2 linked regions of the Homo sapiens genome follow. The protein of the gene in region 1 purifies or fractionates together with the protein of each later gene. This does not show direct contact. Each region holds a gene or a part of one and is shown in the gene's direction. Other genes may lie near its edges. The genes, in order: HS1BP3 and PDXDC1.

Region 1 (14,985 bases):
GAGTAAAACAGCCGCAGGAGGGGGCACCGCAGTGGAGGTTGTGCAGGCTCTTGGATGTGCTAGCAGTGCAGACACCCACAAGCTTACTAACGTTACAGGGCTGTCTGCCCCGTGCTCAGCAGTGCCTGGCACACGGGGGCACCAGATAAATGTGAGTTCTCAACCTTGAGCTTCCTCTGCTCAGGGTCTCTTACTTGGCCTCCTCTTGTTGCTGGTGCAGATGCCCACCCAAGAAGCCCTGCCTGAACCCCTGATGGACGTGGGCCCTGGGTGGGGTGGGAGCCCAGGCCTACAGCTCCGGAGTACTCACGATGCCAGTGCCCTGGAGATGGAGGTTCCCCGAGCCTGGATATGCTGGGTCTGTGGTCTGAGCCTGAGGGGAGCAGTCGGGCCAGCAGGGGGCGCCCGGCCCCCACCGTGGCCTGCTCTGCGGGCCGGGCTGGAGTCACAGCTGCTGTCGGAGCCTGTGTTAGCAATCGCTCTGGGAAGGGGTCCGTGTGCCTTTCCCTGAGGGCTGTTTTCAGGAAAGTCTGGAGCCAGGCTCTTGTGCTGACAACTGCAAGCAGCACCTGTCCCAGGTGACTCCCCACTGGAGGTTCTGAAATCCCCCCAGCTGCCTCCTGGTATCTTGACCCTTCACAGGCTGGGCATTCTGGGTGGTGTTGCTGGAGCCAAGGATGTGTGTTCCAGACACACCCTGCACCAAGGGATCTCCCCGAGCCCGAGGGCGTCAGATGCCCGCAGCCCCTGCACGCCAGCACTCCAGTGGCACACTGTGGGCACAGTCCGGGCCTGGGAGCATAAGAGTGAGTGACCCACACTTCAGTCGGGGGAGACAGGCCCAGTCTATGGGGAAAGCACAGAGGAGCGAGGAGTGAGGGTAGGTGCCAGGATGATGGTGTGTGCATACAGCAGGTGATAGAGGAGCTAGGAGTGAGGGTAGGTGCCAGGCCGATGGTGTGTGTATACAGCAGGTGACTTCGCTGAGCACCCACATGGTTACAGACACGGCGATGGCACTGAAACCACTGTGAGACTGAGAGCCTGCTGGGGTGTCTCTGTACAGAGTGAACATGCAGCAAGAGCTCCGTGAGTGAAGGGGTGAAGGCTTAGCTGCCCAGGAGCTGTGGGGAGAGGCCAAGGAGGCAGCGGGAGTCAGCCGCTGGCCCCACGGGAAGCTGAGTGCTGCCCTCTCTGAGTCAGATGGTGCTCAAGGCTGCCTTCTGATGACAGCAAGAGTCCTGGCCTGCTTGACTCGGGTGCCTGCGTGCAGAGAGGTCCTGCCTGACGCAGGGCAGAGAACAAGCCTTGGAAATATCTGTCTCCACTGCTTGCATTGGCTGGCCCGCCGAAGGCCACACTGGTTCACGGGAGAATGAGGTTGGTGCTGAGAACAGATGATTCACGGTGTTGCAGGAAGATGACCTGCCAGCCGGTGAGATCACCCTCCTGATATGCAGAAAGCTGGGAATGAACACAGTGGCCCTGATCACGTGCAGGCTGGGCAGGGGTCCCTGTATCAAATCTTGTTAACTGGACCTGTGACAGTGTCCAGAATGGCACCGTTATTGCATCTTTCCTCTGGGCCACTAAGATGTTTTTATTGAATCTGCTATCGGCCAGGCGTGTTAAGGACTGGAGCCTGAGGCTGGGAGACAGGCAGAGGGGCAGCAGGCGGGCGTACCTGGCACACTTCCTTTGGCTGCTGGGCCTTGGGAACCCCTGGTCGGGGTGAGAAAGGAGCACTGCCTGCCACTCTTCACTCAGGAAACCACATGCTCCTCTCATTCCAGGTCTCCAAAAAGTACAGCGAGATTGAGGAGTTTTACCAGAAACTGAGCAGTCGTTATGCAGCAGCCAGCCTCCCCCCACTACCCAGGAAGGTCCTGTTTGTTGGGGAGTCTGACATCCGGGAGAGGAGAGCCGTGTTCAATGAGATCCTGCGCTGTGTCTCCAAGGATGCCGAGTTGGCAGGCAGCCCAGAGCTGCTAGAGTTCTTAGGTACCCAAGGCTCTGCCCCATGTCCCTCAGGTCTCCCCGGCCCAGAACTAGGCCCCGCTGCCGTGCCCCAGTGGGAGCATGTCCACAGCTGCCTCTGCAGCCTGGAGGCTTCAGCCAGGCTGGTGAGGCAGGTGGCCTCGCTGACATCCTTGGCTGGATGGTGGGCAGAAGGAGGCCTACCCTTGAGGGACTGAACGTCTGGCTGTCAGGTGGGGGCTCACACAGCAGGCATTCTCCATAGTGTGACCCCATCCATGGCCTTCCTGGCCAGCCCCATTCCTAGAGCTTGCCCGACACCCCCCGACTGACCATGCACCACATACAACCCCCTGACACACACCCCACACTCCCCTCTGCCTCCTCCAACCAGCCCTAGGGACCTGCAGTATCCCGGGAAAGCTGTGTTCTCACAGCCTGGCTGGTGACCTGCCCCTGGGGACATGTGCTTCTCACCTGTGCCCCCACAGAGAGGGTCATGGGGACAGCTCCGGGCTGAGGAATTGATCCAGCACCCCTGCCCCCAGTGGTGGAGACGTCAAGCCCTTCCCATGGGTGTCCTGGCCCTGTCTTCTCTCCTCAGTTTTCTCATCTGTAAGGTGGGAGTAGCCTGGCTGATAGGCCGTTATGAGAATTTACAGAGCTAACACATGCAAAGTCCTTAGAACAGAAACAACCACAGTAAATAGTGGCTACAATTTTACCCCACTCCTCGGTTAGTCCTGTCAACCCAGAACCCCCGTGGGGCAGGCCCTGGTCTCACAGATGCCCCCAGGACAAGGCAGGTTCTCACCACTGCTGGTGCCGGACTCCCACCCCTTCTCCCCTCTTTACATCCGTCTGCTTAACTCCTTCCCAGCTACTGTGGATCTCCTAGTTCCACAAGACAGAAGGGAAGTTTTCAAAAGAAAGTTGACCGTAAATAAAACAAATTATTTAAAGTGAAAGGTGGGGAAGAGAAGCAAAACTGGTGAATGCGCAGGCCTAGGACTGGACAAGCTGCACAGCCCCGGTGTCCTGTGGCCATGTTGGGCCCCTCACATGGGTCTGGGTTCTCTTCTGCCCTTGTTGTTCCAAGGTCACAACCCTTCCTTCCTTGCCTGTCTCTGGGGCTGGGTAGACTGTGCCAAGAGGTTCCAGCTCAGCCATCGCTGGAAGAGATGCTCAGGATGTCCCAGCCCCTCTCTGGTGGAGAGGCAGGATAGAAACACAAGCTGCTCTATGCCTCACTTTGCTCATCTGCAAGATGGATGTACAGTAGGGATCTCTCTCATAGGGCTTTTGTGATGTTTAAATGTAAGATGCTTATGACATGAAATTGAAGGTTTGGGAGATTTTGAATGGCTTTTCACATTTGTCCAAGTAAAATAACAGAGCATCACATAATACGATATCGTCATTATCACTCAGTGCATCCTGTATGCCAGACACTCTCTAAGTTCTTTACCTACAAGGTGATTTTATTAAAAGTCAGTTGTTTTAAACTACCCAGTAAGCACTTGGATAGAAATGAACAAATAGTCTGAGCCCACGCTTCTCAAACTATCTGTGGCAAGGGCTAGCTCTTTTATTCCCAGCCTGTCACAGATGGATACTTTCACAAATACAAAAGCACACTTGGGTATTGTGATGATGGCAGCATGCTATGAAGTTTCTGGATGCTTGCTCTCCCTTTCTCTACTTACCTCATTGTGGTCACACAGGGGGCATTCTCTGTCTGAAGACCACACTTCAAGAAGCGCTCATCTAAGCCAGTTTGTAATGGAGTGATTACCGTTTGTTCTGGAATCTTCCACATGCTTACCCTGGGCACCCATCCAGTCCACAGTCCAGGTGCCCAGACTCTCGGGGCAGGTCTCTGTCTGCAGAGTTCCTTGCCGTGCCTCCAACTGTAAATGGTTCTGGCTGTACTGGTTCTTTTTGAATCACCCTGTGCCCTGGCTGTTGTATCCCACCGCTCACCCGGGAGGAGGGTGCAGCCATCCCTGCGGCGCACACAGGCTCTGGGCCTTGGGTTCAGGAACCGCTGCCCCTGTCTTGCTCTGAAGCTCCCACTTGTGACCACTCCACTCCAGGCTTCCTTGGTGCCCGTCAGCCCTTGGGGGGCTGCAGCAGGCACTTGGCTGCCCCCGAAACGGAGGTCACCTTCCATCCACCCAGACTCGCCATCCTGCTTAGGTCCCAGGAGGGACGAGTTTGGTCCCAGGAGGCTGCAGGAAGCCCTCGGCCTCAGATCCTGGCATGGGAGGGTGCAGTGTGGCAAGATGCCTCCCCTGGCTCTGGGGTGGTTACCAAGTCCATTCTTTTCTGTCTTCCTCCACAGGTACCAGATCCCCAGGGGCTGCAGGGCTCACCAGCAGAGATTCCTCTGTCCTGGATGGCACAGACAGTCAGACAGGGAATGATGAAGAGGCTTTCGACTTTTTTGAGGAGCAAGACCAAGTGGCAGAAGAGGGTCCGCCCGTCCAGAGCCTGAAGGGCGAGGATGCTGAGGAATCCTTGGAGGAGGAGGAGGCGCTGGACCCTCTGGGCATTATGCGGTTGGTCTCCTGTTGTTGAGAGGGCCCCTTTGGTGTATTCCAGGCTTTCTGGAGATGACGTCCCCCTTCCCTGGAATCTGAGAAAAGCCCTGAGCATCCCAGGTCGCCCCCTCGCAGGGATCTGGGCCACGAGGCCTTGGCCTGGTGTGTTGGGGGAAGTAGCTCTCTGCGTGCCCTTGGTGGTGTGCATGTCTCTGGGACTGGGCTTAGGTGTCGCCTCCCTTCTCGGGTCACAGGATGTCCTCCACTTGTGGCTCCGCACTGGGGCTTGGTAGAGTCCTCCGTGACAGCTCAGTAGTGCAGGCTGCGGGCCTGTCCGGCTAGTGTGGGAGGACTGGGTGCTCCTTCCAGCTGTGGGACTCGCAGAGGTGGCTGCGGCTCTCTGGGCTGCATCATCTGCATAGCAGGAGCATTCACCTTGGCCCTGCCTCCACACAGGGCCATTCACCAGCCATACATCTCTGGCCATTTACAATCTCTTTTCTTCGGTTTTCCTCAGTGAAAATGGACTCATGGTCGTATCAACCTCTTAGGGCTCCTGTGACGATGAACTGAGTTATGTAAATTTAGCAATCAGCTACCATCATGGCCCCATCTTTCAGTGGAATCAGACCAGGCCAGGGGTGCTGTCCTCCCCGCTCTCTACCACAACGAATGTCTCTTAGCCGTTTACCAAAGCCCTCGGGCGCCAGATGAGTGTAGGTCCTGCCGCAGAAAGGAATTAGAGCCCAGTAGAAATTAGGCAGAAGCAAGTTCAACTTCATCAGCATGTAGAATTCTCTCCTAAAATCACAGCCCACTCTGGAAAGGCCTTCTTCGTGGGGAGGGTTATGGGAGGGTGGGCTGCAGGGTGGCCATGAGACCAGCGTCCAGGGGTGAGGATTTGCACTGGGAAAGGGTACGCGGCGCTCAGGGAGCTGCAGCAGAAACAGGCCTGAGATCTGGGGTCCTGCGGCACCTGGGCACAGCAAGTGCCCTGCAGTCGCTCCTCCTGGCCCTCCGTGGCTGGCCTTGTCCCTGAGTGGGGTCAGCGGCCCTGAGGGAGAGGCAGCCAGAGTAGTGGGTGATATGGGGACAAGCCTGTAATAGTCACTCCTTATCAGCCTGGCCCAACGCGGCAGGCCTTTCTTGGGCTTTATTTTGGTAAGGGTGAGGCTTTGTTTGAACTCACATTCTCTGTTGTTCTGAGTAACCACACGTAGTGCCAAACCGAGATGGACTTTGGTGGTCTGTGCCAACCTTTGGCTGAAGAACACACTTAGCCGAGCGGCTCCTTTTTTGGGTAGGAAAATGTTCTTTGTGGCTGGCAAGTGCTGCCTTGAACTTCCTACTTACTTCATTAGCAGATTGTCAGGGGAGATGTGTCAGCTATCCTGGGACCCCTTGGCGGGGCGGGGGGGGCGGGGGCAGCCCCCTCCCCAGCTCTGTACTCTGGGGCCCTCACCCCTGAATCCTGGGAAAGCTTAGCACCTAAGAGTAATCCTGCCGGCTTAAGACCCTCCCCTGCTGGGGTTTCTTTTTAAGGACCCGTGTGACAAGGTGCTGATGAATCAACGTTATCACCTCTGTCAGGAATAATAAGTAAATTTTTTGAGAGTTTATGAAATGCTGGGAACTAAGTTAGCATTTGCTTGCATGATCTCATTATATCTGTAAGACAGCATTTCTGAAACTACTTGCTACAACCCATAGTAAAAACTATATGGTACGCCATGACCCAGGACACACATGTATAAACATCCCATAAAACTGAAGCAAAAGTTCCCAGAACTCATACAAAACCTTACTAAGTGTATTGTACTGGGATATTTTCTATTCTATTTCAACGTTTGGAAAGGTCATGACTCGCCAAACTGCTTTCAGGATCCACTGTGGGCACAGGTCAAGAAACGGAGCCCTGGAGGCCTGCACTGGCATCAGCCTCTTCTGTGTGGTGGGAAACTCAAGTTCAGGGTCAGGTGGTTCGTCCACGTTCCTGCAGCCTGCAGATGGCAGAGCCAGGACCCCACGCCATCTCCAGTCCAGTCTTTATCAGCCTGGGAGGTGGGCAGGGCCCCAGGATTATCCCCCTTTCACAGATGGTAAAATCGAGGAAGGAGTTGAGCAGGATCTTGGCCAGAGCCGTGTGTGTTCCAGAGCTGTGTGTGTGGCAGAGCCGTACCTTGAAGTTGGGTTTCCACCTCGGCCTTTCACAGACACCCAGGTGGGCTTGTTGATCTCTCTTGGTGCCACCCACCTGCCCTTTGGTGGGGGACTTTCTGTTCTTCTCGGGAGGCTGTTTGTGCACCCCTCTCCCTCCCGTGCGCTTGGTTCCTGTGCAGATGCAGCGGCACCCGTTTCCCAGCTTGCCCTGCCCCATGTCTGGGCTTAGCTCTGGGCTCTCCTGGAGCGGCCACCATTTCCATGCAACCAGCCTCGGTCCTTCCCCGCCGTGGCCGCGGCGAGGCGCTGCTGCTCTGCTGAAGGGCTGCTCCACGGCAGGGCTGCTGGGAGGGTGGGAGTCGCCAGCACAAAGCCGGAGCCCAGGCCGGCCTGGCTTTTCTTTGTCTTTTAAACCTGGTTTTGATTAGGGACAAGAGAGCGTTATTACACCATTAGAGAGCAATTAAAGATAGAAAAAGCCCTCACCTCGGCCCATCCCAACACCACCGCTCTCTCCATCTGCTGGGGCTCTCTTCTGACCCCGTCCCAGCAGCATCCATGCAACCGCAGGCACAATGCACGTGCCTTTTCGTACTCTGCTTTTCCACCCTATGGTCTGTCCCGATTGCTGCTCCATGTCGCCCCTGTTTTGTATTTAAGTTTCTATTTTAGAATGTCACGGTGCTGAGAAAATTGACATTCTACCCTAATAGTTCTGCCTTATGCTGGAAATCCTCTGCGGGAAACCTTTTTCATTGTGACTCAAATAACACACAATTAGTATAGAAAAATTGCAAACACAGATAAAAGTCCTTTCCCTGTGAATTTCTGAATGCACCTTTGAATATTCACATCTTACTGCCAAAATGAGATTGTCTTGTGTGCCGTTCTGGAATTTGCTTTTTTCCAGCTTACATGTTCTAGGTCCTTCCAGATCAATAGCTGCACTCTCCCTCCTTCCTCTGCTGGTTTCTCAGCTCGATGGGCTGTAAGTGGCATTACCAGGCCCTTGCTTGTGGGCGTGGCGGGGTTTTCTGTAGGTTTTTGCTATTACAGGCAATAACCTGAGGAACTTCTACATATACAAAGCTTTTATTCTATGGAGCCTTCCCCTATATACGTGCCCCAGAGCAAGGTCCCTGAAGCTGCTTCTGGGGGCTTTGGGGTACCATTCCAGTAAAAGGTTCTCTAAGGGCTGAAGCCCCTCTGTTGGGAGGCCCCTCTGCTTTTCTAAGCCCTGCCCACCCCCGCCCTCAGGGCCCACTCCTCCCACCTCTTCTTTTGCACACAGGGACCCCCTCCAGGCCCTGGGTCCCTGAGGACTCACAGCGTCCTTGGGACAGGCTGGCTCCTGTATGAACAAATGCACCTGCCTGCAAAGCTGGTCTTCCCAGACTCCCTGGAAGGGGGAGCCCACACCCGGGTCCCCGTGCTGTGGCCTCCGTGGTGAAGCTGGATGTTTCTCTGGAATGCCACGTTTTATGGTTGTTTTTTAATATGGATTTTGCTTCATCTTTCATAAAACAACCACATGTATTTTAGTATAAAAATAATATCTTACTCTATATTTGGATGAAATCACTTCTCTGGAATGATTCTGTGGTTTTGAATGCTCCTGGCACATTGCCAGGTGCTCCCAGATTTGCTAACCCAAGATTTAGCAGCAAGACAGTCCCTTAAGGTGAGCCGTGGAGGGGAGCTCTGTGGGGACAGCAGGGCCTCAGTCCCACCTCCTGAGGTGCCCTGGAGCTGCTTCCCCGAGGGTGCCTCTTGCTAAATATCCCGACCACTGCGCATGGGCCTGGCACCTCTTTGTTCATTCCAGCCTGAGCCTGGGCACCCAGGGCTCCCCTGATGCCACCAGTGCAACAGAGACCACCTAGGGATTCTGGGCCACTGAAAGCTTGGCAGAGATAGAGATTCCAGGCCCCCCTCAGATCTGGGTAGGGCCCCCAGAATCTGTGTTTTAACAAGCTCTTGAGTTGGTTCTTCCGCAAGCTCCTGTTTGAGAATTCCCAGAAACCAAATTCTGTTAAAGTGTTGGAAATGCCAGAAAGGAAACAGGTGTGGAGAGTGGCAGGTCAGCCGTCACCACAGTCTGCCGCCCACAGGGGGCTGAGGACAGGGCGTGTCCAGAAGGCACTTCCGGTACTGTCTGCTCCCCAGCAACTCCTGCTCGGGCTGGGCTTTCCCTCGTCTGCTGACCCACCTGCTGGACGAGTTCTCTGCTGTGCCATCCTGGGGTTCATGTGGGGGCCACGAGCCAGGATGGCTGGGCCCGACCTCACCCTGCACCTGTGCAGCACTTAGCCCTGGCCTGGCTGGGGACCCAAAGCCATAAGGAAAGGAGGAGGCAGGTGCCACAGCTGCCCTGCAGCGTCACGCAGGCGGCACTCCACCCAGGCTGTCACAGTGATCACAGCAGCACAGTGTGCATGCCAACTGCATTTCCCCATCCAGATTACTGCCGTGGCCGGACGCAGCAGCTCACGCCTGTAATCCCAGCACTCTGGGCAGCTGAGGTGGGCAGGTTACTTGAGATCAGGAGTTCAAGACCAGCCTGGTCAACATGGTGAAACCCTGTCTCTACTAAAAATACAAAAATTAGCTGGGTATGATGGGGCACGCCTGTAATCCCAGCTACTCAGGAGGCTGAGGCAGGAGAATCGCTTGAACCTGGGAGGCGGAGGTTGCAGTGAGCTGAGATTGTGCCACTGCACTCCAGCCTGGGCAACTGAGACTCTATCTCAAAAACAAAACAAAACAGAAACCAAACAAACAAAAAAACAGATTACTGCACAAAGTCCTGCCTGAATGAATGGGCTGTTAGGAACAACAGATGTACCAGTGGTTTCTGCTTTTTAAATTCAGTAGCAAAACCTTTGGCTCAAGAGAAATATCATCCAGAATCCCAGTACATAAAACAGGCTGAAGTAGGATTTCCCCTGGTTGGGACAAGTGAGGACTGGATCTTTGTCCCTCCAGCCTCAGCCCCACTTCCTGGGGTAGCCCTGGGCAGCTTTGCAGAAGGCGAGGGCCCCTTAGAGTATGGTTTGACAGTGAGTGGGGCAGCTGGAAACCCCCAGGATGTGTGGCTACCCCCAGAGCAGGGTTAAAGATGGGCAGTCCCAGGTTCAAATCCCCTTTCTGCCACTCAGCTGGCGGACGCTGAGTGCGTTGCTGTACTTCTCCAAGCCTGTTTCTTTCTTTGTAGAGTAGGGGTAAAGTAGAGGCCCAGTGGCTGAAAGGATAAAATGAGATGGAGCACTACAGGAAAGTTCCTTTGTAAAATGTTATCACTATTTCAGATTCACTTTGCTCTAAAGAGGTCTTTGTGTATTTAACCAACAGTTGAAATATGAATATAAAAGGCAGCTTTTCCACTTCCTATAGTTGTTATGCAAATATCAGTCACTGTGATGTGCACACTATGACTTTACCTCCCTCCAGGAGCGCCGGTACACCTGTCACCTGTTACAGCTTCCTAGAGCAGGCGATTCTGGAGGTGGGGCAGCCCCTGGCCCTGGAGGAAGGAGCCTGCTTACCTGAATCCTTAGTGGGATTCAGTGGTTGCTTGGTTCCTTGAGAGATAGAAATCTGGGAGGTCACACTTGCCATTTTCCCGCCTCAGGCTCCCCCAGGACCCGTTGTGGCAAGTTCTGGCAAGTAACAACACTCTTAGGATGACAGAGCCTTTACGCTCTGAGGACTGCAGATCAGATCCAGGCTCTGTTGTTACGACTGAGGAACCTTCCCAGGATCACACAGGAGGGCATGAGAGCAAGAGCTGGGGGTCTCCTGACTGCTGGCCCAGGACTTTTCCCTTTTTCCCCAGGCCATGTCCAACACTTGTGCCAGGGGACTGACTTCTCAGCCCTCACCTGTTCACTCTCGGTTTTTGATGACATGGGTGATGGGCATTCCCCACTGCAAGGACAGCTAGCTGTCTGCTGGTCGTGTCACCATTTGGAGTGGATCAGGGGCATAGGAGCGCCCATGTGAGAACCAGCAATGGTTGTTTACTCAGAGCTTACTGCGACCAGGGAGGTGTCGGCCACCATCACCTGCATTTGGCAAAGATGCAAAGAGAGGCAGGGGAGTGGGACACTTTGAAGCAGATGAAAGGGAAGGCTCAGATACACGCTGATTGGAGGTTATTGGCATGGGGAATCCAGAAGCAGCCAATGAGAAGTGGGGCATCCTTTGTCCTCTGTGAGCAGGAAGTGGGGCATGTTTGGCTTTCTCTGGATGGTCCTACTAAACTGGAAATGGGGAAAAATTTAGGAAAGCTGGCAGTTATTGATCAAATCTTGGCCATTTGGGGCTGACTGCTGCAGAGGCTGTGGTCTGGCTTCCTGGGCAGGTTACTGCAGACTGTGGGTCAGAGTTCCACCTTTACATGTGGCCTGGCCATTGTCCCTTTGTGTATTCAGGCTCTTGGGGGTACTGGGCGCTTGCTGTAGAATGTAGGCTGCAGAGACCTGCAGCTGGGACCCACGTGGTTCCCTGGTGGTGCAGGAGCCAGGATGGGTGAGGGGCAGTCTCTGGCCCCATTGTGGAGAAGGAAAAATGGCATCACCCACAAGCTCAGGTGGGATTGTCACTGAGTCCTGGCCCCTCAAGATAGGGCTCAGTGGCCAGGAGAGTGGGCTCTGGCTGTTGAGAAACAGGTCCTTGGAATGTGACTCTGGGGACCATAGCAAATGATAAACGTTCATGGTGACCTCCCTGGCTGGCCCCTTTTTTTTTTTTTTTTTTTTTTTTTTTTTTTTTTTTTGAGACAGGTTCTTACTCTTTTACCTAGGCTGGAGTATAGTGGTGTGTGATCTCAGCTAACTACAGCTTCAACCTCCCAGACTTAACTGATCCTCCCACCTCAGCCTCTCAAATAGCTGGAACTACAGGCATGCACTACCATGCCTGGCTACTTTTGTCTACTTTTTGTAGAGATGAGGTTTCACTATGTTGCCCAGGGTGGTCTTGAACTCCTGGACTCAAGTGATCCTCCTGCCTCGGCTTCCCAAAGTGCTGGGATTACAGGCATGAGCCACTGTGCCTGGCCTGGCCCCATTTGCTTTTTAAGGCCCAGAGTGAAGTCTGCTGAGTAGAAAGCATAAGTGAGCCTAGACATCACCAGGCAGCTCCCAGGACCCCAGACCTCTGCCACGGCCCTGCGCTGACTTGCATCCAGGACCCACTTGGCAGCTTGCGAAGCATTTCTGTGTCATTTGCCTCCTTCTTCCCTTTGACCTCCAGTAAGGAAACATGGTTGGGGAAGTTGAGTGACTGGTCCAGATCCTATACAAGTTCTCCTACATCCCCCTCTGCTGCTCCTCTCTCAGCAAAGGCCAGAATCTCCCCAGGCCCCACTGGAGGTGGCCAACAATTCCCACAGACCCTCCCTCCATGCACCTGCTGCCCAGCTATTGGGCACTTTCACTATGCCAGGCTCTGCACACCTTGGCATTTTCATGGGCTCTTCTCTCTGCCCGGAGCACAGCTTTTGTGACTCTGCTCGTTTTTCCATCCTGGCCTTCTCTGAAGCCCCTGTCCAGTGAGGCTGGCTTGGACTCCCAGGGTTAGTGCCTGTCCTCAGGTGATTCTCACTCTTGTGATTGCTTCTCCAAGGAAGCCCATTGCTGTTGCAAATAACATTGTCCTGGTGTGAATTTCAGAAGTCCATTTATTGGTACTCTGAGAATTTTCTCATTGAAAAAATAAAACCAGCCAGGCACAGTGGCTCTTGCCTATAATCCCAGGACTTTGAGAGGTCAAGGCGGGAAGACCACTTGAGCCCAGGAGCTTGAGATCAGCCTGGGCAACATAGCGAGACTCCATCTCGACAAAAAAATTATTTTTTAATTAGCCACGTGTTATGGTGTGTGCCTGTGTCCCAATTACTAGGGTGGCTGAGGTGAGAGGATCACTTGAGCCCAGGAGGTCGAGGCTGCAGTGAGCTGTGATCATGCCACTGCACCCCAGCCTAGGTGACAGAGACCCTGTCTCAAAAAAACAAACAAAAACCCAAAAAACAAAAAGACACCAAACAGCTGAATTTAAGAATAAAGTATGAAAAGTGCATTAGTTTAAAGCACGCAGTTTGCATCATTGGCAAGGAGGTGGATTTCCGTATTTGGTTAAGCTGCACCCTGGCTTTGAAGACTCATGCTGTCCATGTGTCTCAGTTGTGGAAAGATCAGCAGTCTTCTGTTCAGACCCAGTTAAGCTGGCTGTGTCTAGGAGATGCCTCTGCCATGCATGTACACCCGGTGCTGAGCAGCTGGTGCCCATTGGTGGTCTGCTGTGTGGGTGGGCACATCTGGGAATGGTGCCACAGGCCCCCTGGGTGGCCAGAGTGGTGGATGCTCTTATGTGTCAATCACTGTCACCAGAACTGCCTGAGCCACAGGGAGCCAGGCTGCTGCTCAGCCTGTCTGAGCATTGGAGCTGTCAGCCGCGGCAGCTGCCGCCTCTCACCCCGTATGCTGCACGCCCGCCTGCAGAACATGGCCTGGTCTGCGCGTCTGTCTGCCGTCAGGAATACACAGCAGGAAAGCGGGTGTCTGTCCATGCACACATGTGCATGCAACAAGAACATGCCAGCACATGCCTGCAATCCATCCAGGAGCACCCCACCTACCTCATGCAACCTCTGTGGGCCCAACTCATGTTTTGGTGGCCCTCATGGCCTGCACTAGTTCCAATGAACCCTGTGCTCACCAGGAAGCCAGGAGCTGCAGTTCCAGTCCTATTCCCTGCAGACCTCTCTTTGAAGCCCCTTTTGCCCCATCCCTGGTGACAAGATTCTAATCATGACCAGCTGTCCTTCCAATGAAGGGAGAAGAGGGCACCCTTCCTCCATGTCAGTGAGGGGCTTTGTCTCCTGTCAGTGCAGAGGGCGGGCTGGAGGGCGGGCACTGCAGAGCCAGGCCCTGCGCCTGCAGACAGCTGGGTGGATGCTGATATAGGAATGGAGGAGGAGGAGGACCAGGGAGGAGAGGATTGAGGGGGCCCCCGAGTGATAGCCCATGTGTGCGACCTGACCCGACTCCATGTTCATGACAACCCTGAGGTGTTTGTGCTAGGAGAAGGGTGAAGAAATGGCTCAGAGACTGAGTGACGCACCTGTCATGGAATTACTGACCCCCTCACTGAGATCAGAAACCTGTCATCACCTTAGACAATTCCCTTCTGTCAGCCGATCACCTTAACTGTCCAGATGTATAAGCACGTTTGCCTTCTGAAGTTCCCCCTAGCCTGTCTTCCCCTCGCACCACCGCTGCTCTCCTAGTCCAGGCTCTGGTCATTTCTTCTATGGACCATGAGCAAAGCTTCCCTGGAAAGAACTGACTCTCAGCCTGTTCCCTCATGGCACTACGTCTGCTGCAAACCTAAGGGGTCCCCTTTCACCAAGAGGAATCTGGGTTCCCAGTTATGTCCTAGTCACGCCCGCTGCAGACCCTCACAGTGTGACTCTCAGGTCCTGTACCCAAGATGCTATTTAACTCCATTCCACCAAGTTCACTTCCTGTCTCCACATCACCTCCTCCAAGAAGTCCTCCCTGAGCCCTCAGGCTTGGTTGGCTCTGTCCTCTGTGCTCTGCCGTGACAGAGCGGAACACCCTGTGTGCTAATGAACAGTTTCCTTTTTTTTTTTTTGAGACAAAGTCTCACTTTGTCACCCAGGCTGGAGTGCAGTGGTGTGATGTGAGCTCACTGCAACCTACATCCCTGGGGTTCAAGCGATTCTTATGCCTCAGCCTCCCGAGTAGCTGGGATTACAGGCATGCACCACCATGCTACGCTAATTTTTGTATTTTTAGTAGAGATGGGATTTCATCATCTTTGCCAGGCTGGTCTCAAACTCCTGGCCTCCCGTAAACTTTTTGCTTTAAACTAAAGCACTTTTCATATTTTATTCTTAAATTCACCCACCTCAGCCTCCGAAAGTGCTGGGATTACAGGCATAAGCCACCTCACTCGGCCATAATGATCAGTTTCTATGTGACCCTGCTCTGCCATGAGCTTCTGGGGACAGCGGCGGCTCGTCCTCATCTTTGTTCCCTCGTCCCCAGCACAGGTTCTTGCAGGTGGGAGGTTCTCAGTGAGTGCTCGCCATCAAAGGTGCCCACGAGGGAAGGAATGAGTTGCTCATAGAGTGGCTGAGGGCCTGGTGGCAAGCCCAGTGGAGTCGGCCAGGAGATCTTCGGAGGAGGGGCTTTCGCACATAGGGCGCTGTCTGAGACTGGGGTTGGGAGCCTATCCCTCTTCCCTCCCTGCCCCTCCCGCCTTGGGGATTAACAGA
Region 2 (14,985 bases), on another chromosome or scaffold:
TATTTTATTTTTTTGAGATAGAGTCTCACTCTGTTGCCCAGGCTGGAGTGCAGTAGCACAATCTCACCTCACTGCAATCTCTGCCTCCCGGGTTCAAGTGTTTCTCCTGCCTCAACCTCCTGAATTGCTGGGATTACAGGTGCATGCCACCACATCTGGCTAATTTCTTGTATTTTTAGTAGAGACAGGGTTTCACTATGTTGGCCAGGCTGGTCTCGAACTCCTGACCTCAGGTGATCCGCCTGCCTCAGCCTCCCAAATTGCTGGGATTACAGGCATGAGCCACTGTGCCTGGCCTGAATTTTTAAATGACACATTTAAGCCAGGTGTGGTGGCACATGCCTATAGTCCCTCTACTCAGGAGACAAGCAAGATGTTGGCTTAAGCTCAGAAGTTCAATACCAGTCTGGGTAACATAGCAAGACCCCATCTCAATAAATAAATAAAAATAATTGTACTGACGTTGTAAGATTGTTGTAAAAATTAAACAAGAAAATTCATAAGATGTCACACTTAAATATCTACCTTATAGGCGGCAGAGCAACTACCACTTGCTGCTCCATTTATCTCATTCAGCATCATACTTGAAATCTAAGACAGTGCAATAAGGCAAAAAAAATAACTGACAGATTAGAAAGGAAGAAATAAAACTTTGTTTGCAGGCATGATTGTATAGATAGAAAACTAAAGAAAAGCTACTGGAACTAATGATCAAATCTAAACCATTTTCTGGATTTTTACATACTAGCAAAGAAGAATTGGAAATTGAATTTTAAATGTCATTTATAATAGGATCAAAAAAGATGAAAAATTTATGGATAAATTTAACAAAATATATGCAAGATCTGTACATTGAGAACTAAGAATGTTACTGAGAGAAATTCAAGAAGACCCAAGAACGATATGCCATACACACGGGTTGGAAGACTAAGTATTAAGTCAGTTCTTCCCAAACTAATCTGTAGATTCAACTTGATCCATCTTAAAATCTCAGCAGGCTACAATTTCTTAATAGAACTTGATGAGCTAATTCTAAAGTTTATATAGAAATACAAGGGATCTAGGAACAGCCCAAGGGATTTTGAAAAAGAACAAAATTGGAAGACTTACCTTGTCATACTTCAAGACTTCTGTAAAGTAGCAAGTAAGACTGTGTGAGATTAACCAAAGAAAATAGAGAATTCAGAAATAGACTCATGTGAAGTATATGGACACTTCAGGTTTTTACAGATGCCTGAGTAATTCGAGGGAGAAAGGACCATCTTTTTCCATCAGTGGTCTTAGAGCTTGGATATCCATATGGAAAAAAACTGAATCTTAACCCTTATCTTATTCTCTGTATATATAAATATTAACTATAAATGGTTCATCAACCTAAGCATAGATCTAAGACAATAAAATGTCTCAAAGAAAATACAGGAGATCTTTGTGACCTTAGGTTACATTTCTTAGGATACAAAATATGTGAACCATAAATTGTACTTTATCAAAAATTAAAAGCATTAGCTGTTTGAAAGCCCCTATTAAGAAGATGAAAGGCAAGTTACAGACTGGGAGAAATATTTGCAAAACATTTTTTTCTTTTTTTTTTTTTTTTTTTGTCTTTTTCTATTTTTATTTTTTATGTTTTTGAGATGGAGTTTTGCTGTGCTGCCCAGGCTGGAGTGCAGTGGTGCGACCTTGGCTCACTGCAACCTCCGCCTCCCAGGTTCAAGCGATTCGCCTGCCTCAGCCTCCCGAGTAGCTGGGATTACAGGCGCACGCCACCGTGCCGGGCTAATTTTTGTATTTTTAGTAGAGACGAGATTTCGCCATGTTGGCCAGGCTGGTCTCAAACTCCTGACCTCAGGTGGTCCACCTGCCTTGGCCTCCCAAAGTGATGGGATTACAGGCGTGAGCCGCCACACTCAGCCAGCCACTGTCCCAGTCCTGTCTTCTTTTAAAATTTCTTTTTCATTCTTTTCCCCAGAAGCTACAAAACATTTGTTTGACAAAGAACTTGTATCTAAAATATATAAAGAACTGTTACAACTCAATAAGGACACAAGCAATACAATTTTTTTTTTTTTTGGAGATGGAGTCTCATTCTGTTGCCCAGACTAGAGTGCAGTGGTGCGATCTTGGCTCACTGCAACCTCTGCCTCCCGGGTTCCAGTGATTCTTCTGCCTTAGCCTCCCGAGTACCTGGGATTACAGGCATGTGCCACCACACCTAGCTAGTTTTTTGTATTTTTAGTGGAGATGGAGTTTCACCGTGTTGGCCAGGCTGGTCTTGAACTCCTGACCTTAGGTGATCTGCCTGCCTTGGCCTCCCAAAGTGCTGGGATTACAGGTGTGAGCCACTGTGCCCGGCCCACAATACAATTTTTTAAATGAACAACAGATTTGAGCAGATACTTCATCAAAGAAAATGAAAATGTATAGCACTTGAAAAGATGTTTAACATCATTAGTCATTAGTGAAATGCAAATTAAGATCACCATGAGACATTACTACATGTCTGTTAGAATGGAGAAATTACAGGTGGCTCACACTTGTAATCCCAACACTTGGGAAGGCTGAGACTGCGAGATCAATTGCCCTCAGGTGTTCGAGACCAGCCTGGGCAACATGGCGAAACCCCTAGGAAATCTCTACAAAAAATACTAAACATTAGCCAGGTGTGGTGGTGTGTACCTGTAGTCCCAGCTACTCCAGAGGCTTTGGTGGGAGGTTGGCTTGAACCCAGGAGAGAGAGGTTGCAGTGAGCCAAGATTGTGCTACCATACCCCAGCCTGGGTGACAGAGCCAGATCCTTTCTTAAAAAAAAAAAAAAAAAATTCTTTAAAATATAATGTCAGGCCAGGCACAGTGACTCAAGCCTGTAATCCCAGCACTTTGGGAGGCCGAGGCGGGCAGATTACGAGGTCAGGAGATCAAGACATCCTGGCTAACATGGTGAAACCCCGTTTCCACTAAAAATACAAAAAAATAGCTGGGTGTGGTGGTGGGCACCTGTAGTCCTAGCTACTTGGGAGGCCGAGGCAGGAGAATGGCATGAACTCGGGAGGCAGAGGTTGCAGTGAGGTGAGATCGCACCACTGCACTCCAGCCTTGGTGACAGAGTGAGACTCTGTTTCTGTAAAAAATAAATAAGTAAATAAATAAAACTTGCCAGGTGTGGTGGTGGGCACCTGTAGTCCCAGCTACTTGAGAGGCTGAGGCAGGAGAATGGCTTGAACCCGGGAGGCGGAGCTTGCAATGAGCCGAGATTGTGCTACTGCACTTCAGCCTGGGCGACAGAGTGAGACCCTATCTCAAAAAAAAAAGAAAAAAAAAAAAAAAGGCAAAAAACTACAGTGACAGAAGCAGATCAGGATTTTCCAGGGCCAGTGAGGAGTCAGGGAAAGGGTAATTATATTGGGGTTGATGGGATTTGGGGGTTGATGGAAGTATTCTGAATCTTGATTGTGTTGATGGTTACATGCTCTATATATTTGTCAAAACTCATTGGACCGTATACTTACATGAGTGAGTTTTGTTGCATGTAAATCATACTACAATAGGCCGAGCATGAGAGCTCATGCCTGTAGTCCCAGCACTTTGGGAGGCTGAGGCAGGCAGATCACAAGGTCAGGAGTTCAAGACCAGCCTGACCAATGTGGTAAAACCCCATCTCTACTAAAAATGCAAAAATTAGCCAGGTGTGGTGGTGTGCACCTGTAGTCCCAGCTACTTGGGAGGCTGAGGCAGGAAAATCGCTTGAACCTGGGAGGTGGAGGTTGCAGTGAGCCAAGATCGCACCACCGCACTGTAGCCTGGGCGACAGAAAGGGTCTCTGTCTCAAAAAAAAAAAAAAAAAAAAAAATCATACTACAATAAAACTGCTTATTTAGGCCGGGTGCGGTGGCTCATGCATGTAATTCCAGCACTTTGAGAGGCCAAGGCGGGAAGATCACCTGAGGTCAGGAGTTCAAGACCAGCCTGGCCAAAATGGCGAAACCCTGTCTCTACTAAAAATATAAAAATTAGCTGGTTGTGGTGGCAGGCACCTGTAATCCCAGCTACTTAGGAGGCCGAGGCAGGAGAATAGCTTGAACCCAGGAGGCTGAGATTGCAGTGAGCCGAGATTGCGCTGCTGCACTCCGGCCTGGGCAACAGGGTGAGACTCTGTCTCAAAAAAAAAAAAAAAAGACAAAATAGAAAAACCACATAAATATTCACTTTATTGCCAACAGGAAAACCATCACTTCCTGCCTTATTGTTTAAAAACACAAATTCACCCATATTCAATCACATGATAAACTGGAGGGGCTGCAGTTTGCATGTGACTGAGTGACTTGCCAGTGTGATTATGTTGCAGATGTCAGCAGACACATGTCAAGGGTTAGTCACCAGACATTGCCAAGAAATACGAAAAGAGAATCTGCATGCGATCCAGGCACTAACACAGCAGTACGCTTTTATTTTGCTGGAAGAGCCTGTGGCACAGCCCATGCATTGACATTTGATCTTGTTTCAGCTAAACTAAATGTGTCTGTTAAGATTTTTTTTTTTTAATTTGAGGTAGATTTAGGTATGAGGGGAAAAAGTTTTCAGCCCTTTTCCTGGCATAGACCTTACAAAAGAACTACTTTCTTTAGCTGTGTTTGTTGAGGCCGTTGGTGAGTGTTTGAAATCTTTTTAGTTGGCTTACTGCTAACTGGAAATTTAGGACGGTTGGGGGAATGCCTGACTCAACGTTTTAACTAAGCTCTCTCTGAAAAGGGATCTCCCCAGCAAAATCTGTAGTGCAATCAATTACCAAGGGAGCGGCTGAAAGTGCTTAATATGCTTAAGCTGGCTTCAGAATGCATGTTCTGTATTACAAGGAACCTGGGTGGAAACAAAACAAATTCATCTATATGTTTTGTTTGTTTGTTTTTTGAGCTGGAGTCTTGCTTTGTTGCCCAGGCTGGAGTGCAGTGGCACGATCTCGGCTCACTACAAGCTCTGCCTCCCAGGTTCACGCCATTCTCCCGCCTCGGCCCCGCGAGTACCTGGGACTATAGGCGCCCACCACTACACCCGGCTAATTTTGTTTTTGTATTTTTAGTAGAGACGGGATTTCACCGTGTTAGCCAGGATGGTCTCCATCTCCTGACCTTGTGATCCACCCGCCTGGGCCTCCCAGAGTGCTGGGATTACAGATGTGAGCCACTGTGCCCAGCCCACCTATATGATTTTTATAAAGGGCATATCTAAATCAAAATAATCCAGGAAGTGACAATAAAATAAAAAGGTGGAAAAGTTTATCTTGGACAAATGCTGACAAAATGAAAGTACCATAGCCATATTAGTGTGGGATAAAATAGACTTCATATTGATGAAAGATGTAATCTCCTAAAAGAAATAACAGTTATACCTGCTGGGCACGGTGGCTCATGCTTATAATCCCAGCACTTTGGAAGGCCGAGGCAGGTGGATCACGAGGTCAGGAGTTCGAGACCAGCCTGGCCAACGTAGTGAAACCCCGTCTCTACTAAAAATACAAAAAAATTAGCCGGGCGTGGTGGCCACCGCCTGTAATCCCACCTACTTGGGAGGCTGAGGCAAGGAGAATTGCTTGAACCTGGGAGGTGGAGGTTGCAGAGTTGAGATCATGCCACTGCACTCTAGCCTGGGCGACAGTGTGAGACTCCGTCTCAAAAAAAAAAAAAAACAGTTATGAATGCTTGTGAACATAACTTTAAAATATATAAAGGAAAGCTAAAGGAAAAGTCTGATGTAACACAAGTATATATTGACAAACCACAATCTTGGTGGGAGATTTGAATATATTTCTCATGAGTCAGCAGATCAAGTAGATAGAAAATAAGTATATAAAAGAATTCAATGACACAATTAGATACATGTAATAGAGATTACATACTCTTCAAAGCTTGTAATAAGTCAACTCACAAACACTGATTTTAAGTCCTTCCACAAAGAAAATCTCAATAAAATAGGGATATAATAAGTCACTTCCCTCCTAGGGCGATAATGTGTATAAAAGTGTTTAAGGTATAAAGCCTTAGAAAACATTTGTTCCTTTTAATGCCCTGATGTGTTTTATCCTAGGAACGGCAGCAGTAGGACACACAGACAAGATTGGGAGATTGAAAGAACTCTGTGAGCAGTATGGCATATGGCTTCATGTGGAGGGGTAAGCCGGCGGTGAGGCTGGTGGCTCCATTCGGGCCTGCACAGAGTCCTTATGAGGACTGGACATCCAGGCTCTCACTTTGGTGACATTTATCACGAAGGGCTCTTTGGGTCACAGATCACAAAATAACCCAAATTGGCTTAAGCCCAAAGAGATCTTACTGGCTCACATAACTACAAAGAGCAGTGTTATGACTGCCTCAGGCACGACATCAACCAGGATCCAGTGTGTTACTCCCACCTCTGCTCCCCCAGTCACAGGCACTGGGCTTGGTTTCCTCTATCTGTGGACAGATCTTCCTGTTACAGTGCAAAGTAGCTGCAGAAACTCCAGCCTTCTTTCCAGCTTCGTGGTCAGCTGGAAGTCCTAACAGAAGTCTCGTATTGAACCAGCCACTGTGGCCAGGGAGAAGTAATCCTCTGATAGTTGAGGTTCTTTGCTCTCCTCTGGAGCAGATAGTGGTGTCTCCTCCCCACAAAGCTCATGTTCTGCTGGAAGAAATGGAGATGGCGCCCTGGAAGGCTATTGTAGGGCCATTAAGAGAAGCAGGGGGAACGGACGTGGGCAGCCAGAGTAGCCCATATCCACCACATCATACAGGGAGGTTTCTTTTTGATCCCTAAGTAAAGAATGATAACTGGAAAATAAGATCCATGAAAGAGAAGAATACTCCCATTATATTAAATGAGCGGGGATAGTTCCTGAGACACATTTTTATTAAAGTGCATTTTCAGGATTTTCCTTCATATGTATAAAGCACACCTTCTGTTGCTGTTAATGAAAGCTAATAACATTAAAAATATACTTAAGTGTCAACTTGCAACAGCACAGCCTTTATTTTTTTAAGTACATGGTGAGTAAGCAACATTAAATAATTAGTTCTTGGACTGGTGTTTTTTCTTCCAGTGTGAATCTGGCAACATTGGCTCTGGGTTATGTCTCCTCATCAGTGCTGGTATGTTGTTGATTTACTGAATATTGGTGTTTTTAAGAATGAATTTAAAGTCACTCAGTCCCTCATGGCTCTTCACAGTTTTTATGAATGGAGGAGGGTGTTAGGTTTGTGTATTCTGATAATCTAACAAAGAGTTGTTCTTGTTTTGGTAGGCTGCAGCCAAATGTGATAGCATGACGATGACTCCTGGCCCGTGGCTGGGTTTGCCAGCTGTTCCTGCGGTGACACTGTATAAACACGATGACCCTGCCTTGGTAAGTTTCCACTCACTGGGGAGGGAGTGGGTGTGGCTAATACACATTATTGGCTTTGGGGGCAAAATCCAGAAAAATACAGGAAAAAGTGAAAAATACCCATAATTTCACTTCTATTTCATTTTTTTAAAGAGAAACTTGTGAGACTTTTTTTAATGACATTTTATGATTGTATAATATTCTGTCACAATTTAATTATTCTCCATTTATGAACTTATAGGATGTTTTCAGAGTTTTGTTACTGAAATAATGAAGCAGTGAACGTCTTTCTGTGTTTCTAATTATTTCCTTAGAATAGGTTCCCAGATGTGGAATGACTGAGTGGGGGAGTTTTAAGCCTCCTGATCCACATTGCCCAATAGGTTTTAACTTTTTTTTTTTTTTTTTGATATGGAGTCTCGCTCTGTCACCCAGGCTGGAGTGCAATGGTGAGATGATCTTGGCTCACTGCAACCTCCACCTCCTGGGTTCAAGTGATTCTCTTGCCTCAGCCTCCCAAGTAGCTGGGATTACAGGCATGCGCCACCACGCCCGGCTTATTTTGTATTTTTAGTAGAGGCAGTGTTTCACCAAGTTGGTCATGTTGAACTCGCGATCTCAGGTGATCTGCCTGCCTCGGCCTCCCAAAGTGCTGGGATTACAGGCATGAGCCATCACACCTGGCCACATTTTTTTTTTTTTTTAATCGTAGTTGTGGGCCAGGCATGGTGGCTCATGCCTGTAATCCCAGCACTTTGGAAGGTTGAGGCAGGCAGATCGCTTGAGCCTAGGAGTTTGAGACCAGCCTGGGCAACATGGTGAAACCTCATCTCTATAAGAAAAAACAACAACAAAGAATTAGCTGGGCATGGTGGTGTGAGCCTGTAGTCCCAGCTACTCATGAGGCTAATGTGGGAGGGCTGATTGAGCCCTGGAGATCAAGGCTGCAGTGAGCTATGATCACACCACTGCACTGCAGCCTGGGCGACAGAATGAAAACGAAACCTGTCACAAAAAATAATAATAATAATGTGGTTCTTGATAATATAGGTCAGCGTGCAAAATAAGGTTTAAGTGATTTCTGCTAAAACACTGCTGTCTTGCTCAGCTAATAATGGCCAGGTGTTTGAGGATGCTCAGAGCTACCTTCGAAGTGGGGAGTCTCCTAGGTTCTGGGATGTGACCCATCTGGGTTTTCCACTGGCTTTTCCTGGCTTTGCCACTCCTGAGCTGTGAACCCTTGGACAAACCGAGGTCTCTGAGTGAAGTTACCTAGAATACTTAGCTCACAGAGTTGTTGGAAGATCACATGGATAATGCAAGCCTAGTGACTAGTATGGCATCTAGCCCACACTAAGTGGGTAGCAAATGGTAGCTGGTTAGTTCTATTATGAGATTGCAATGGCTTTGATTAATAAACCTCTTTTGGCTTTTTTAGACTTTAGTTGCTGGTCTTACATCAAATAAGCCCACAGACAAACTCCGTGCCCTGCCTCTGTGGTTATCTTTACAATACTTGGGACTTGATGGGTTTGTGGAGAGGATCAAGCATGCCTGTCAACTGGTGAGTAGAAGCCTGACATTTAAATGAAAGACTCCTTGGCCACAGCAGAGACAGAAAAACATCTCATTTCTGTACCTTCCATCCAGAGTGGTGTTGTCTGGATTGACTGTCTCGTGAGCCAGAGACTAATCGCCCTGCATGTAAATATTTCTTGTTCAAAGTTCTGGGAGAAAGTGCTGGGTTGTCTGTCCCAGCATTTGTGTGCAGATGAAATCAGATGAAAAGGAACACCACTGTCAGCATGGGATCAGAAAAGAAGTCACAGATGACTTCCAAGGAGTGGAGAAGGGTGCAAAAGGTGGAGGGGTGGGGAGCGAGTGTTCCCCTTGATTGACTGACTACGGTGAGGGAATAGGAAGGTTACAAGGTGGTTATGGAGGGCATGGATATTTTATAAACCAGCTGGCTTGGGTTTCCAAATTGCAGGGCTCTTGGGGACAATTCTAATTCTCTCTCCATTTTAGGTGTGTTCTAATTGTGAAAAATATATAATTATGCTATATTTCAGTGTTTTAGAGCATTCAGGCTTCTATAACAAAATACCTTAGAGTGGGTAATTTATAAACAACAGACATTTATTGCTTACAGTTCTGGACGTGAGAAGTCTCAGATCAAGGTGCCAGGAGATTCCATGTCGGGCCCGTTCCTCATAGATAGTGCCTTGCATGTGGCCTCACATGGCAGAAGGGGTGAGCACAGTCCCTTGAGCCTCTTTCAGAAGGTCACTAGTCCTGTTTGTGAGGGTTCCATCCTCATGCCCTAATGACCTCCCAAAGGCCTCAACTCATTTGCGATTAGGTTTCCACATAGGAATTTTGTGGGGACATAAATATTCAGATCATAGCATTTAGAAAGCAAAAAAACAGGCTGGGCATGGTGGCTCACGCCTGTAATTCCAGCACTTTGGGAGGCTGAAGCGGGTGGATCACAAGGTCATGAGATCAAGACCATCCTGGCTAACACGGTGAAACCCCGTCTCTACTAAAAATACAAAAAATTAGCTGGGCGTGGTGGCGGGCGCCTGTAGTCCCAGCTGCTCAGGAGGCTGAGGCCGGAGAATGGTGTGAACCCGGGAGGCAGAGCTTGCAGTGAGCCGAGATCGCGCCACTGCACTCCAGCCTGGGTGACAGAGCGAGGCTCCGTCTCAAAAAAAAAAAAAAAAAAAAAAAAAAAAGCCAAAAAACAGGGTCATGTTTACTCAGGGTTAGAGCTGAGCCCTCCCTAAGCTCAGAAGTGCGTCACCTCCATTTTCTTACCTGTGAAATATAAATTATATGACAAGGATTGCCAGGATGGCTCGAGGAACGAATACAGGTAGAGCTCTTGCAGTAGTGTCTGTTCATATAGTAAGTTATGCACGTGGGTTGAAATCTTTGTTTTAAATATATTCTTGGGGAGTTAGCACTTCCTCAAGTATCATTTCTATATTTAAGAAACATAGGTGGCCGGGTGCAGTGGCTCACGCCTGTAATCCCAGCACTTTGGGAGGCCGAGGTGGGCAGATCATGAGGTCAGGAGATCAAGACCATCCTGGCTAACACGGTGAAACCCTGTCTCTAATAAAAATACAAAAATTAGCCAGGCATGGTGGCGGGTGCCTGTAGTCCCAGCTACTTGGGAGGCTGAGGCAGGAGAATGGCGTGAACCCAGAAGGCGGAGCTTGCAGTGAGCCGAGATTGCGCCACTGCACTCCAGCCAGAGCGAAACTCAGTCTTTTAAAAAAAGAAAGAAAAATAGGCCGGGCGTGGTGGCTCATGCCTGTAATCCCAGCACTTTGGGAGGCCGAGGCGGGTGGATCACCTGAGGTCAGGAGTTTGAGACCGGCCTGGCCAACATGGTGAGACTCCGTCTCTATTAAATATACAAAAATTAGCCAGGTATGGTGGCAGGCGCCTGTAGTCCCAGCTACTCAGGAGGCTGAGGCAGGGAGAATTGCTTGAACTTGGGAGGCAGAGGTTGCAGTAAGCCAAGATCGTGCCACTGCACTCCAGCCTGGGTGGCACCATCTAAACACACACACACACACACACACACACACACACACACGAAAAGTATTTGCGTAGTGCTCTAGCAGTAGTCCCTTCGTTCATCATATGTTAGGATAGTTCAACAGTTTTAAGTATGCTCTGGGCTGGGTGCAGTGGCTCATGCCTATAATCCCAGCACTTTGGGAGGCCAAGGCAGGTGGATCACTTAAACCTCAGAGTTCAACACCAGCCTGGGCAATGTGGTCAAACCCTGTCTCTACAAAAAATACAAAAATTAGCCAGGTGTAGTGGCACACACCTGTGATCCCAGCTACTCAGGAGGCTGAGGTGGGAAGATCACTTGAGCCCAGGAGGTCAAGGTTGCCGTGAGCCCAAATAGCACTACTGCACTACTCCACTCCAGCCTGGGCGACAGAGTAGGACCCTGTCTCAAAAAAAAAAAAGAAAAAAAGATTGATGCTCATTATGTTTACAAAAGCACTGCATTTTTTGAAAAGTGTCTCACTGTGCTATTAGCTCACTTCTTGAGATGTGGTTCTTAGGAAAGAGAAGCCTTAGTAACTTAGTTTAGAGACGACTTGGGCACTCGGGAGATTTTTTCAATATCCCGTGGCTATGGAGTGCGGGAGAATGATGCCATTAACTACCAGACCCTTGAGGTCAGCACAGCTCTGGCATCTTCCTGCAGGCAGAACCGTATACTCCTGAGGATTTGAATGCTGTCCTGCTGCTGACTCACAGGCTAATAAATGCATGTGTTAAATTACTTGGACATTTAGCAGACATGGTGATCTGTATATAGCCATGCCTTATAGTCCACAGTGGAGCATACATTTCCTGAGAGCGTAAATCAGCATTCGCCTCCTCATCCTCCTCTTCCTTCTCTTCTCCCTCTCTTCTTTCTCGTCTTCAGTAGTTATTGAGCATTCACCTCAGTGTCAGGCACCATGAAGTACTTTCATGCATCATCTCATTTGATCCCTGCAACTTCACTAGAATGTCAGTTCCACTGATGACAGTGTATTCAGAATTAATTTTCTTTAAGAAAACAAAAAGGAATTTCTTGAGGGGCTTTCTACTGTCCAGTACTCAGTGAATATCTGTTGAATTAATATACTCCAATCCCATGAGTTAGATATGATTAGTGATGAGGGACCTGGGATTGAGACATTAGTCTAATGACACTACATTCTAGACCCTGTTTCTAAGCACTTCCTGTATTGCATATCAACTCATTTAATCCTCACAGCAATGTGAGATACATACTATCCTCCCCATTTTATAATTGAGGGAACTGAAGCATAGACAGGTTACATAGCTGGTGACTGGCAGATGAATTGACTTATCCGTGGTCCTGCAGGTGATGAGTGGCAGCACTGTGCTCTTATCACCAGCTCTTGAGCGTGCTGCATCCTCTCATTTGTCGTTGGTCTCCCCTAGTGTTCAGTACTGTGCCTTGCACGTGTTTATACTCAGTAGCTTTTGAATGACAGACTTACATTGCAAATACAACAGATTTCCATGTCTTATTAGAAACTGCTTTTCTTGAATTACTACATGTAACTTGAAGGATTGGTGAATATTTACAGTTGTTGAAATACAAAAACAGGTGGCTGAACTTAGAAACCACCAAGTGGCAGGTGACTTTGCCTGACATCCGTGTTCACAGACCTCCACAGCCCCTGGTGAAAACCACTTCTTCATGTCCCACGTCCATCTAATTACATGTGTTATTTTTTGTCATTTGCAGAGTCAACGGTTGCAGGAAAGTTTGAAGAAAGTGAATTACATCAAAATCTTGGTATAGTATATAAGTTCATCTGTTTTCAAAATATAACTTTTTTTGAACCTCAGCAACTTTGAATGATTTTAGAACTTTAGAATGATTTTCTCCACATTTCAGTGGAATTGTGGCAGCTCCAGTAAAAAAACAAAACAAAAAAACGAAACAAAAAACAAAAACAAAAAAACCTGCTTATATTTATACAGTGAGTCTGAAGCGAAGAAATTTGAACCATACAATGTTTAATTCCTATGGTGCTTTTCATGTACTTCATTTATTGTGTTAAAGTTCAGAATTGCACAAAGATAAACACCATTGACTTCAGCTGCCCAAGGCCTTGGGCACACTCTTCTTCCCAAAATGAAAAGTCACTTTGTGCCTCAGAATGCTTTGGGGTTCTCTTTCTGCAACCTTCTGCCATCAGTTTTCATTTGCATGAAGTGGGAGAAAGAGAAAAGCAAATGGCCCTGCTCTTGTCTTCTGATATCTTCCTGAAGTGAATCCAACAGATTGTTCCCTAGGCATAACTAGACAAGGAAATAAGGACTTAGGAGAGAATGGGGATCAGTTCAGGTTTGAAAGTTTTTGTGTTTTGCTTCATGGTATTTTAGAACTTCAGGAAATATATGTCAAATTCTGATTTAAATAGGTTCATTGAGTGTTTCTTTGACAATTCTGCAAGGTATGCTTAAGTTTAACATTTGAGTGTATTTGGGGTTCAAGTCAGTAGGTTTATTTTTCTTTTAGAACATGGTTTGGTTTAAATACAAAAAGTAGCCGCGCATGGTGGCACACGCCTGTAGTCCCAGCTACTGGGGAGGCTGAAGTGAAAGAATTGCTTGAACCCGGGAGGCGGAGGTTGCAGTGAGCCGAGATTGCGCCTCTGCACTCCAGCCTGGGTGACAGAGACCCTGTCTCAAGGAAGAAAAAAAAATGCATGGTTTGGTTGAAGGGGGTGTGGCTACTCTGCCTTCTGAGTGGGAGTCTGGAGCCAGTTGACCCGAGTTCTAGCTCAGTGGGAGTTCTATCCTTGGACGAGGAAGTGGACCACTGGAGAAGCAGAAGGGATGAATCTAAGTTCAGAGGCCTGGGCTCTGCTCTGAGCAGTGCCACAGGGTGGCCCTGTGACATTGAGTCATTTTCTTTCCAAGCTTGACTGTCAAATGAAAGTATGCCGGTTGGTCTCCTCTGATTGCAAACAGAGAAGCAAATTATGGCCTAGATTGAGCAAGCTGTTAAGAATCCAGGCGGTGCTGGGCCCATCTGCTTTCCTGCCCCTGCCATGTTGAGCGCACTTGGCTTTTCCTCAGTCATCGCTGCTCCCTTATTCTCAAATTGGGGGACCCAGTGGTGCTAGTTAATCACCAGTTGTTTTGGAGCATCTCTGTAGGCCACACTGGCCCAGGCAGAAAGCCTGCTCTGTCCCTTCTTCCAATGGCTGTTTTTTCAGTAGAGGATACAATAATTGGCTAATACCATGAGGCATTATGGCCTGTGAGTCCTCATCATCACCATCACCATCACCACCATTCCAGCTGCTGCTTGTGAAATTCATGTGTGGTACTAAGTACCTTACATGAATTATTTCATTTAACCCTCCCAACAGTCTCCTTTGTATGTGCTGTTCTCTCTGCCTGGAAACACTGTTTCCCACCCCCCGTCCCCAATTCTTCTGTTTATTTTTTTTTGAGACAGAGTCTCACTATGTAGCCCAGACTGGAGTGCAGTGGTGCGATCTTGGCTCACTCTAACCTCCGCCTCCTGGGTCCCTGTTCAAGCAGTTCTCCTGCCTCAGCCTCCCGAGTAGCTGGGGTTACAGGCGCATGCCACCATGTCCAGCTAATTTCTGTATTTTTAGTAGAGATGGGGTTTCACCATGTTGGCCAGGCTGGTCTTGAACTCTTGACCTCGTGATCCACCCGCCTCAGCCTCCCAAAGTGCTGGGATTACAGGCATGAGCCAAAGCGCCCAGCCTCCCCAGTCCCAATTCTTCTCATGACTGGTTTCTTATCTTTCAGATCTTAATTCAAATCTCACCTCTTCAGAAAGGCCTTTCCTGGCCACCCTAAGATCATCTCCCACCGTCAGACATCACTCCATCCCCCTGGGTCGTCTTCATCACTCTTACTACTATCTGAAATCAAATCTGTTTGTTTTTTCCTATAGAAGGTTTGTAAAGGCCTTATACAGACTCACCACTGTGCCTCACCTGGGCATTAACACCCAAGACCCTAGCCCTGAAAGCCCAGTGCCAGGCCCCAGACATGCTCCCATCCCCTGCCACTCAGCTTACAGTCCT

The links.
Region 2: the proteins of HS1BP3 (region 1) and PDXDC1 purify together in Homo sapiens (affinity purification with mass spectrometry; 2 studies listed by BioGRID and IntAct, with this or other methods). This does not show direct contact.

The regions. Positions count from the first base shown.
Region 1 is NC_000002.12:20,627,989-20,642,973, reverse strand, and holds part of HS1BP3 (HCLS1-binding protein 3), read left to right. Parts: intron 1-1,793; coding exon 1,794-2,001; intron 2,002-4,321; coding exon 4,322-4,538; intron 4,539-4,544; exon of another isoform or gene 4,545-6,741; intron 6,742-7,971; exon of another isoform or gene 7,972-8,258; intron 8,259-14,985. UniProt on the Homo sapiens protein: May be a modulator of IL-2 signaling.
Region 2 is NC_000016.10:15,010,051-15,025,035, forward strand, and holds part of PDXDC1 (pyridoxal-dependent decarboxylase domain-containing protein 1), read left to right. Parts: intron 1-270; exon of another isoform or gene 271-347; intron 348-6,078; coding exon 6,079-6,163; intron 6,164-7,069; coding exon 7,070-7,118; intron 7,119-7,270; coding exon 7,271-7,372; intron 7,373-8,789; coding exon 8,790-8,915; intron 8,916-12,653; coding exon 12,654-12,704; intron 12,705-14,985.